Homo sapiens: one gene and its partners. The protein of the gene in region 3 interacts with the protein of the main gene of each other region in a biochemical or structural test. Each region holds a gene or a part of one and is shown on either strand. Other genes may lie near its edges. The genes, in order: YAP1, LRRK2 and NEK1.

Region 1 (3,657 bases), on a different chromosome or scaffold from region 3:
GTATGTGCCAACATACGATGTCAGGAACTTGTTGGGGCTCAGAAAATGATACTCCAAAATATGGTTCTTTGACAAACTAAGGAAGCAGCCTCAAGTTCTATGCCAAAGCACAGGATGAGGCTGTTCCTTGAAGTTCCTTTATCTGCCTAGAAACCAGACCCACCAAAAGGAATACAATTGCCTTTGATCCCCTCCTCAAAATTTCATTAACCAGAGAAGCCTGAAACTTGTATGACAGAGGAAAAGACTAAAAATTAAATATCACACCTAGAGAGCTCAGAGGAACTTTGCCCAGACTATTGTCTGTTCTCAGATCCCATTCAGTTTCCAAAGAGAATTATTTACTAACCATTGTCTGTGTACTGGGCCCATTCATTCTTCCTAAAAATCATTTACTGCCCTTCAAAATGGCGTCATTTCCCTCATGTCCCCTTCCCCTGTGAAGAAGGGTATTATATAGTATCTGGAACTCACTTGGTTATTGGGTAATAATTGTCTTGCAATTTCCCCCATGCTTATGCACCTTAAATAAATTTGTTTGCCATTTTCTCCTGTTAATTTGTCTATTATCAGTTCATTTTCAGCGAACCTTTAGAGGGTAGAGGGGAAGTTTTCCTTTTGGCCCCTATAAAGTGATCTTGAAAGAAATGTTTCTTTATCTGACATAAAAAAGGATGGAGAAAGGAAGCATTATTGTACCTCTGACTTTCTAACAAATTACCATAAAGGAAGAATATTTTTCGTCTACTATTGTTAGAACACCTTAGAACCATCAAAAATATAATTACATGGCTAATAGAAAAAAAAAGAGCAGTTTTAAAATATGTTTTATGTAACCTATTTTCATTGTTTTTCATTTTGTTGTTGCCGAGTAGTAGTTGTTCTAAGTAAATACAGGTCTCAATTTCACTATGAATAAAAACTGTCAAAATCAAGAAACTAAAAAAAAAGTTCTTTAATTACTAATGTCAAAACCATACTGTTTTTAAGATAATTTGTAAAGTCTAGAAATGGGGCCATTCGCCATTTTGTTTTATGCCATAGATCATCCTGGGGTTTTTTGGTGGGCAAATGCTGCTATTTGTAAAACTCTTCCTTCCAAAGATTTTCCTAAATCTTTATTCTCAAACTTACTCTGGGTGATGGGTCCTGGACAGAATAGCTTCACTTCCTTTAAAGGTAACTTCTTTGTTTCATCTTTACTGCCTACTGTGTCGTCTTTTCTTATGTTGAAGTTGACAGACCTGCTCTATTCTCATACTAATAGACTATTTTTAGATTTTTTTAAAGTAATCACAATAAATTCAGTATATCTTAAGTCTTTTGGCTTCCTGTGAACTTCTTCCCTTGACAGTTTATCTTAGCACTGAAACATCAAATATATTGTATCTGCTTTATCTAATACTCAGAAACAAAGAACCTACGTGACCAATATCAAATTTTATTTTTTAGTTCTGACTCCTAAAGTCTTGCTGTCCTATCCTCAATGCTGTTAAAAACTTCTGAGGTTCCAGTTTTGTTATGTGGTGACTCCATTGGCTCCTGTCTTCGTCAGTCTGCTTCTTCTTGGGTAGCTTGGGAATTCTGTGCTATGGTGATATGTCTGGATACAATTTGTAAGTCAGCCTACACAGCCAGACCATGTGGCTTAAAGTAATTTTTATCCGTCTTATTTTTTACTCTTAGGCAATGCGGAATATCAATCCCAGCACAGCAAATTCTCCAAAATGTCAGGTAGGCTCTTATCTGATGTTTTAGCACTGGAAAAAAAAAAAAAAAGATATTAAATTAGGAAAGAGAAACTTACATTCCAGGGTCCTGTCCTTATTGGACATTAGCCCAGAGAATAACTTTGAGCCATCTTTCTACCAAGATACTCAGGTTAACATTGCCCTTCCAAGAAAGTCTACACAGTCTGCTCCCTCCCTGCTCCTCCTAGGGAGTTTCTGTTTATTTTGATTCCATGGAGGTCTTTTTTATTCTATATTTAAATGTATTGTGTCTCAGTTGTACATCCTATCAGCTAGGTATGCCTAATTTTTATTTGAATAGCTTAAAATAGTATGTGTAATGATTTAAAGGAATTAATAAATTGAACAGTAACAAAAGCAGTATTTACTTGGATAGGCTACTTTAGGAAATTTTAGAGTCATGATACTATGAGGAAGAGAAAAATTCTTTCTAGTGGACATTCCAAAGGAAAAATATCAAAATTATCAGGAGAGTATCTGCCTGGATAGTGTTTCAGGTTTTCTTGTTGGCTTTTATCAGCATTCTCTGATGAACCCCAGGGAGCCCTGGTTGTGAAGGCATCTTATTTAGAAGGAAAGATTGTGGCCAATTTTTCTTCTAACACAGGCACTTGTCTGACTCGTGGGAAGAATCTCGTTCTTAAAACCAAAAAGATTTTAGGTGTTTGAGGTCCACAAGATTAGAAGAAATTCGGAGCCAGAGGATCATTCTACTTCTCTTGGGGCAGAAGCAACCATATAATGCCTCACCTTCTATGTAACTTACTCTGCACTATGCTAAATAAGTACATTGTTTTAGAATCTGCTGTAGAAGTAGGAGTTGGCAAAATTCTACTCATTTTGGATACTGTTAAGTTGTCCGTTGGAGCACCATGATGATAAAAGTCAGATACAGTCTTCATAGAAACCAGTTAATTTTGTGAGAGGGAAAATCTCTATTCTTCTTTATCTATCTCATAAATGCCACCATTAATCAAAAGACCAAGCAAGGGATAACTCAATAATAAGCCATCTTCACCAAAGTTGAGCATAGACATTCTTATGATGAGGGGGCACTAATATACCATTTGACTGTGAAGTGCAGGATAGCATTGGGTCTTTATAACGTGAAGCCATTTTTTTCTTTGCCATTTCTCTGAAGTGTTTGTTTTGTTTTGTCTTTTTGTTTTTGTTTTTTGTTTTTGTTTTTGAGATGGAGTTTCGCTCTGTTGCCGAGGCTGGAGTGCAGTGGTGTGATCTCGGCTCACTGCAAGCTCCGCCTTCCGGGTTCACACCATTCTCCTGCCTCAGCCTCCCAAGTAGCTGGGACTACAGGCGCCCGCCACCATGCCCAGCTAATTCTTTTTGAATTTTTTAGTAGAGACGGGGTTTCACAGTGTTAGCCAGGATGGTCTCGATCTCCTGACCTCGTGATCCGCCCACCTCAGCCTCCCAAATTGCTGGGATTACAGGCGTGAGCCACCACGTCTGGCCTGAAGTGTTTCTGAAAGAAGAATTTTATTCATGATAAATGAAATAGAAACTAATATAGGAGCAGAAATTAACTCAAAGGAGATTTGGATTCAGGTAAAAAGTCCTCCATGCCAAAAAAATGTTGAAATTGTTTCCTTTTTTCCCAAGGTCTTATACCCTGAATCTGATAAATAAGTCAAATTCTTCTTGATCTTTGTTTCATACTTGAATAGAAAAGTAAATCTTTACTGTTATTAAAATTATCAGGAATTCTTAGATTTTTTAAAATAGTAAAGTTTTAGAAAAGGTGAGGCTTATTAGTAGTAAAGCTTCTAAGATACGAAGATTAGAGGTAATTACTCAGATTTGCCCAGACCAGAGCAAAAAACTTGAAAGAGGTTTTTAAAAATCTTCTTTGCATATGCTGGAGATTAAAATATTGGTTTGTTATATA
Region 2 (3,657 bases), on a different chromosome or scaffold from region 3:
TTCTTCATCAAGTCATCAAGTAAGATTTTTTGATGTTCTTCACCATCATTAAAACTATATAATGCCCATTTCTTCAACAGAGTTTCTCCTTCACCACAAATATCAATCTCCAGCAACCCAGGAAACCATTCTTCCATGAGAGAATCAATGTGGTCCACAACTTGGCCCAAAAGAATACAGCCTACATGATTCAAAACAGAGCTCAACACCTTGTCTAAACCTCATACTGTCGCAAAGCTTTAAGGTAAAGTTTTTTTTTTTTTTAAGTTTAAATTTCTTTAGTGTTGCAATTGAAAACATTCAAATTGATTTCCTTACCTTTTCTACAAGAAGGAACTGTAATTTTTAAGAAACTCTCTGGATGATTGTCTAAGACTTCAGATCCTACCAGACAATAAGCTTCAGGAGACCAATTTAAGTAAATGCCTTGTCGCCAATACATTCTGTTTGGGCGAAGTGCTCGTTCTAAAAAATGGAGCCATTAATTATTAACTGCTTCCTAAGTTAAAGGGAAAAAATCTACTGCACACAACACAAGTGATTGTAATACAGATCTATTCATTTTGAAATAAAGTATTGGGTTGTTACTGATATGAGTCCTCATCCATATCTATTAAATATTTTATCCACAACTTTACAATAAAAAGAGTTAAATCCCCTGCACATTAAGATCCATTTCAGGTTGATGCTGTTAAGCAGTTTAATATGCTCGACAGATGAAGAAAGAAAATCATAAATAAATCCTCATAATTTTTAAAAAGAAGTTTTTGATCATGCTAAACGCAAAACTTTCTGAACTTTTTAATGCAATGTAACTACCTATATGTTGATTAATTCCAATCAAGGTAAGGTTTATTTTGGAAACCAGTAACACCTGTGTAAAGCTAATTTTAATCCCCAAAATGATATTTTCCCTTTGGAGTACCAAAATGTCTCTATTTATTTTAGAAGAAAGAGTTAGCATTATAAACACCGGATTTGCTCTTTTTTTGTAAATGTCTTAGTGGCTGTGCAACAGAAAAGAGATAATTACAGTCCCTACAATGTAATCACAGTCAAGATCTGAGTGAGCACCTAAGGAATTTTCTTCCTGACAAATTAGATGAGGTTATATGTGCTTGTGTGTCTTTAGATTGCCTACTCCAAGGTTTTATGAGCTTATTTTCTAATTCTTCAGCTGCCTTCCAAACAAGTAAACTCTGAGAAAATGGCATATTACTTTTCATATGCCATCTCCCTAATTTCTCTAAAAATTAATAAGTCTAAATTAATAGTCTCTAAAAATCTAATAAGTCTTCATTAGATACTTACCTCTCCCTGAAAGCATGTAAGGTGAAATCTCAAGTAATCGATTGATTAATCTTGACCAAAATCCCATTGGAAAATAAGGCATTTCATATAGTCGGATGATAATTTCAGAGTTCTCACAATGGGGAAGCTCTATCACAGGCCTGTGGTCAGACAAACTAAAGGCAAAAGGACACTATGGTTATACAGCCTCACAAAACACCCAACCTTGTTGAGCAAATGATTTTACTGCTTAAAGTCAATGAAGGTAATCATTCCAAACAATTGTAATCTTTTTGTAACATTGTTTCACTACATATTTTTCCTACACCAAAAATTCAGTGGTCAATAACCAATTCAAATGCATGCTCAGATGTAGATGCATGAAATATTTTCGGTAATCCCTGTGCACTAATACATAAATTATTACAATTAGTTATGCATAGACAAATGTAATCTTATATAAATCCTGAAAAATACATGTCCTAGAAAAAAAGTGTATATTTATTTTTAAAATTGGCTGCATCCATCAATCAATGTAATTTGCACATTTCAACATCATATTACTTTATAAATTTCCCAGTTGCTTAGAGCAGTAGGAAAAATTTCCATAGTATAGGCTAAAACATAGGCATCCATTGTGATGCCATAAATGCTTTTAAAATTCTGTTGAAAACTCACTATCTTCTCAGAACTTGCTTAATAAACTCTCTCAGTGTTGTTTAAGAACACACACATACACAAACACAGACACACACACACATTAATCTCCACTATTTACCTTTCTTAAATAATTTCAACAGTGATAAGCCAACTAGTAACTATACACATAAAGTAAGTGATTTACTATATTGTTAAAGTGTCAGATGCAATGTTTTATTCCAAAATAAATGATACATGTCAGTAGGAGGTTTACACTAGAAGCAAAATATATTTATTTATTTAATACATCTATTATAGACTACAGTTAGTTTGACAATTAAAAGAATAGATAGTGAATTTCCATGTAGCAATTAATTTTTTAAGGTTTTCTTTACCTGCTTGGAACCAGCAAATATTCTTCTCCTATTGGCAAAGCAATCTGGAATTTTTCTAGGAGCTTAAAATACTGTGACATGTAGTTCTTTGGAAATTTCCTTTTTTTTGAAAGAAATTTTTCCACATCTCTACGCGAAATAATGCCCTTAGGGTGTTTTGGACAACCTTCCACTTTCACTGTCAAAATCTGAAAGATTCGAGTCATAAATAATCACTAAAATTTATTTTCTGAAATGTTGCAAATTTAAAGCATTTTATGTCTCTTTGCTCAGTGAAAGTAGTCAGAAAGATTTTAGTGTTTTCAAGTGCAACACAGTACCTAATTTCTCTAGCAACCATGTGGCCTAGAAGCCCAGAGGGGCATTCACTCTCAAAAAAAAAAAAAAAATTGTTAAATTAAGGGAGTTAATTCGGATAGGAAATCATTGAACTTCACTGAAACAATGAACATCAGTATTTCCCTAGCTACAATGGAAAGATCAATCCAATACCTCACATCTGTTTTGCAGTCTCATCAATAATATATTCCCAGGAAAATTATCTTCCAGACAGTTATCAATACAGGTTTGAAATAGAAATATTACTTCACATTTATATACTAGGAGAGGACTTCCATGAATAGGAAGACAGACTGTGTAGCAGAGTTTCATGATTCTCAAAGTAACTACTGCATTTTGATGGATTCTACTTGCAGTGTCTGGGTCAGTAGGTCTGGGTTGAGGCCTGAGAATCGGCTTTTTTAAAGAGCAACCCCGATGTTTCTAACACAGAGATCACACTTTGAGCTTTGATCCTTGTCATGGCAGTTAAAAATCAGTCAGAACCCAGATTCAAATCCAGGCTCTACTACTAGCTCTGTAACCTTGGGAAAGGTATTTGATTTCTTTACTGCACAGCTTTCTTCTCTATAAAATGAGATAATAAAAGTGACTGTCTTAGATTGCCCTGAGAATGAAATAACACATGTAAAGTACGCAAAGTACATATGACAAATTTTAGCATATTTATCTATATATTCCAATTTATTTTGCTTTGTCAAATTCACTTTAAAAAGAGGTTTGTATTTAATTTTCTTTGGGAGATCTATAATGTTTAAGGAATACTTAAACAGAAGCAAACATTATTTATGCTATCATGTAGTTGAGTGAAATACCAGGTTATAAAGTCCTTAGGCCCAAGGACTTGTCTTACCCATTTCTGTATTTCTATTTTGTATGTACAGTATTTATTGAATCAATGAATGCATGGTTGATTGAACATATTGGTATTTAATGACAGTGTGCAATGGGCCTATAAATAATAAAAACTGTTGTTTAAGACTTCTCCCATGTT
Region 3 (3,657 bases):
TGTTGAATAAATAAGCAAAATAAATGCTATCAAGTCTTTGGGCTTTTTTCCAATGCAAGAAAAAATTCTACAAAAACAGTCTGTGAAAAAAATTACTTAAAATCAGATTTGTTGATGGTCAGACTTGCCCTTCTAGAATGTAAGCTCCACAAGAGCACATATGTTTCTGTTTTGTTCCTATATCTCCAATTCCTAGAACAATGTAAGAAATATAGATTCTCAGTAATTATCACCGAATATATAAATCATTAAGTCAGATTTTCTCAATACTCTCGCTAAATGCCTAAGAGATGTTTCTGAGACACTACCCTGGTTCTCATCAAGAATTATTCATAGTAACAGATTAATTTAACATGGTATACAGAGTTAAAGTAATGCAATTTAAATATGTATCATTAGTTCCCTCTCTCACACTATACACTTTTGTAATAAAAATCCTTGCTATTAAGGCTGATTAGTTTGATTAGTTTTCTCTGCTCTTCACATTTCACTGTGAGAGGGAGGCACTTCTATTCGCCCAAAAGGAAAATATATAGAATTCTTTCAGCTTCTCTCAATTCTTCTAAGTGTTCATTTTTTTCAGAGTGGTTAGTCTATAAGTTTACATATGTACTAGACCTAAATAGGATATTAATATACTACTATACATACTTTCAGTTGTAGAGAAGGATGTATCTAGTGTTAACTCATCCAGAGGAATCACAAGTTGACCTCCTGCCTCCCACTTCTTGCGATCAGATGAAACTGATTTTTCTTTTTCATGCTCTTTGGCATCTTCATGAACATTTATCTCAAAAGTATCAGAGAGATTCTGCTTTCCTTTTTCATCTTCTTGAGCTTTAAGATTTTCATTTAATCTACGAAGTATTTCTCGCTTACTCTGAAAGTCACGACATTATATATTTTAATATGTATATCATTAAGTAAAATGATTGATAAACTTTGAAAATTTTACTTACTGAAATAGCATTGTTGGTCTTTTGCATCTCTTCTGAAGTTTCCCGGGTATCAGTTAAACTACTGTCCTTTAAATGCAGATAGATACAGAGGAAGAGATAATTTTATTTTTTTAAATCTACCTTTAAAAATATTACATCCTCGTTACTTTTTGGTTTTCATTAATTTGTTCCTTGTAAATTTTTTATTCCTATAAAATGTTAACAAAGCTTCCTTCATTATCAGCAATGACTAACCTTTAAATATTATTAATTAGACAACATAGACAGGGGCCAATTCTCAATTATTTGTCATATTTTTAGATTACTGCTCACATAATTAACTATATCCTCTTCCTCTTTGGTACCTGATTTTTTGGTAATTTAAGTCAGAAAATTAGAGGAAAAAGTAGAAATTAGAGGAAAAAGTAGAAATTAGAGGAAAATTCATATACTCTCTTAATTATAACTAGAAAAAGTTTTGATAGATGAAGTAATTCAAAATAGGCTGTGTTATTCTAAAACTGTCTTTATGTTTCATGTATATATATCCTTGTTAAGCCATAGTACTAAATGTAATTGAGAAGTGGCTTTCCTCCCTAAACAAAGAGTGTAACAAAAATTAGTTCTGAGTCATTTGTACTACAAATGACATAAATGTTATCTCCTAATTAGCATTGTCAAAGCAATCCAGACTATCTAAAATTAAAAAACATACGAAAAGAAGAAATTAGCAGTTACGAAAGCTATGAAAGCAAAGGCATGTAGAAGATTCAAAGAACAATTTTCTAAGTTTTAAGTAAGTGACATTTACCAACACAACACAGAAAGAAAACCGTTCAGTTATATGGATTACCTCGAATTTTGTAATACTTAAAAAAAATTAAAAATTTGGTGGTCAGTTTCAAAGTAATATATGAAGCAATGAGACAAAGAACATTTTACCCAGTAAAGTAGTCAGGAATTAGCAGTCCTACAACCAGAGAGATGAACAGCTATTGAGATGTGAGACTGGGTACCAAGGAGGGACCACACAGTGGTATCTAAAGTTGGAGTAACAACGTGGCACACGCAAAGTCGTTATCAGAAAGAAAAAGTGACTAAGCCTACTTGAAGAACAATAGTTTCTTACATGAAGTTCTTGAGAATGATCAAGAAACTTATATTTTCCTACTGAGTTTTATTTTCAAAATCAACCCAAAGGCTATAAAAAAAAACAGCTAGTGTACCAATTTTGTCTGCAAATATTTACTGAAACTAAACAAATAAAAAGCACAGACATCCATTACCAGGAAAGGGGAAAATGAAGTTATTATGTTATCTGATTCAGTAGACTTTTCTCCTCCTGTCTGTTGAATTCTAGGCCGCAGCTCCACACTATGAGCCCACTTCTCTTAACCCCTGAACAGTCTTCACACTTCAGACAGATACCTGAAATATACTTCTAAGTTTAAGCTTTTTATTTGTCTATGTTTCTTTGTTTTACTATCTGTAGGGCATGACAGAGATTCAGAAGTAGAAGGTAAAAGGAATAACTGATGAATTAACTAGTTCTACTGAGTCCTCTAACATTTGCCATGTCACAAAATTTGAATAAATGTAAATATGTGTTGGACCTAATACCTAGAGCTACTTTAGCACCAAAGAGACATTATTCTTTTTAAAGTGAACATTTGTTAATCATGAGGGTTGGGTAGAAAAATGTTTATAGTATTATTTTCAGTACATTTCTCTGTATATTTTATTTTTTCAATATTCTTTTAAAGTAATATAAGAGTTATTGTGATATATTTTCATCTACCACGTGGTCCTAGATATAAAACTTATAAACAATGAGGCTCCAGTATTCTGAGTAAACTAAAATCCCTTAAAAAGTAATTTTTTTCCTTAGAAAAACCTGAAAGGGACATTAGGGATTAATGTGATTTCATTAAATTTAATTTCCTTTTAAATAATCTTTTGACTTTGAGGAGTTCTGAATCTTAGGAAACTTACCACGCCAACTTCTTTCAAAGCTGAAGTTACAGAAATAACAGATCTCATCTGTTGCTTTGATGGAGAGCCACCTGTTTCATGCTGTCCCAAAGGTGGAGAAACATCAGAACTCTTAACTCCTTTAGCCACCAACTATAAAAAAGGATTTTATTAAATACATTAGGGATTTTATATTTGTATGAAGAAATAAAATGGTACCTACCAGATCACTATTTATCCACTCTATCCACAAGTAGTTTTTTTCATTCCTGAATTATCTGTTGAGCAAGGCATTATGATGCTACATGCTGGGGATACAGCAGTGACTAGAGAAAAAAATCTCTGGTCTCAGATGTACACATAGTCATGTCACATAGTCCTAAATAACCCGCTTTCATTGCATTATCAATGTTTCATGAAATGATCCTGAAAAACTGTCTTTTAAAGATTCAAGTGTAAGATTTTGTTAATCTTACACTTCTAAAAGAAATGCTTTTGTAATTCCTGCAGGTTTGGGTACAATCTTCTCAAAGTTCAAATATCAATTACTCAACATAAGAGCCCTCATAAAAATGCCAACATAAATGAGAATGGAAGGAGAAACAGATCCAGGTAATAAGATTTACTTCACTGAAAACATCATGTTGTATTAACATATGTGCTTGTTTTTATGTTGCCATTTAAACTCTAAACAAAGTAAGATTATGAAACCTGAATTAATACAAGGAAATGACATTTATGGGTATGA

The links.
Region 1: of the proteins of NEK1 (region 3) and YAP1, one has a biochemical effect on the other in vitro, tested with the Homo sapiens proteins (one study listed by BioGRID).
Region 2: the proteins of NEK1 (region 3) and LRRK2 interact on a protein array, tested with the Homo sapiens proteins (2 studies listed by BioGRID and IntAct, with this or other methods).

Annotation. Positions count from the first base shown.
Region 1 is NC_000011.10:102,207,831-102,211,487, forward strand, and holds part of YAP1 (transcriptional coactivator YAP1), read left to right. Parts: intron 1-1,686; coding exon 1,687-1,734; intron 1,735-3,657. UniProt on the Homo sapiens protein: Transcriptional regulator with dual roles as a coactivator and corepressor. Critical downstream regulatory target in the Hippo signaling pathway, crucial for organ size control and tumor suppression by restricting proliferation and promoting apoptosis.
Region 2 is NC_000012.12:40,318,843-40,322,499, reverse strand, and holds part of LRRK2 (leucine-rich repeat serine/threonine-protein kinase 2), read right to left. Parts: exon of another isoform or gene 2,525-3,657; intron 2,513-2,524; coding exon 2,325-2,512; intron 1,467-2,324; coding exon 1,312-1,466; intron 466-1,311; coding exon 319-465; intron 182-318; coding exon 1-181. UniProt on the Homo sapiens protein: Serine/threonine-protein kinase which phosphorylates a broad range of proteins involved in multiple processes such as neuronal plasticity, innate immunity, autophagy, and vesicle trafficking.
Region 3 is NC_000004.12:169,476,473-169,480,129, forward strand, and holds part of NEK1 (serine/threonine-protein kinase Nek1), read right to left. Parts: intron 3,063-3,657; coding exon 2,931-3,062; intron 1,909-2,930; coding exon of another isoform or gene 1,900-1,908; exon of another isoform or gene 1,052-1,899; intron 1,026-1,051; coding exon 960-1,025; intron 881-959; coding exon 652-880; intron 1-651. UniProt on the Homo sapiens protein: Phosphorylates serines and threonines, but also appears to possess tyrosine kinase activity. Involved in DNA damage checkpoint control and for proper DNA damage repair.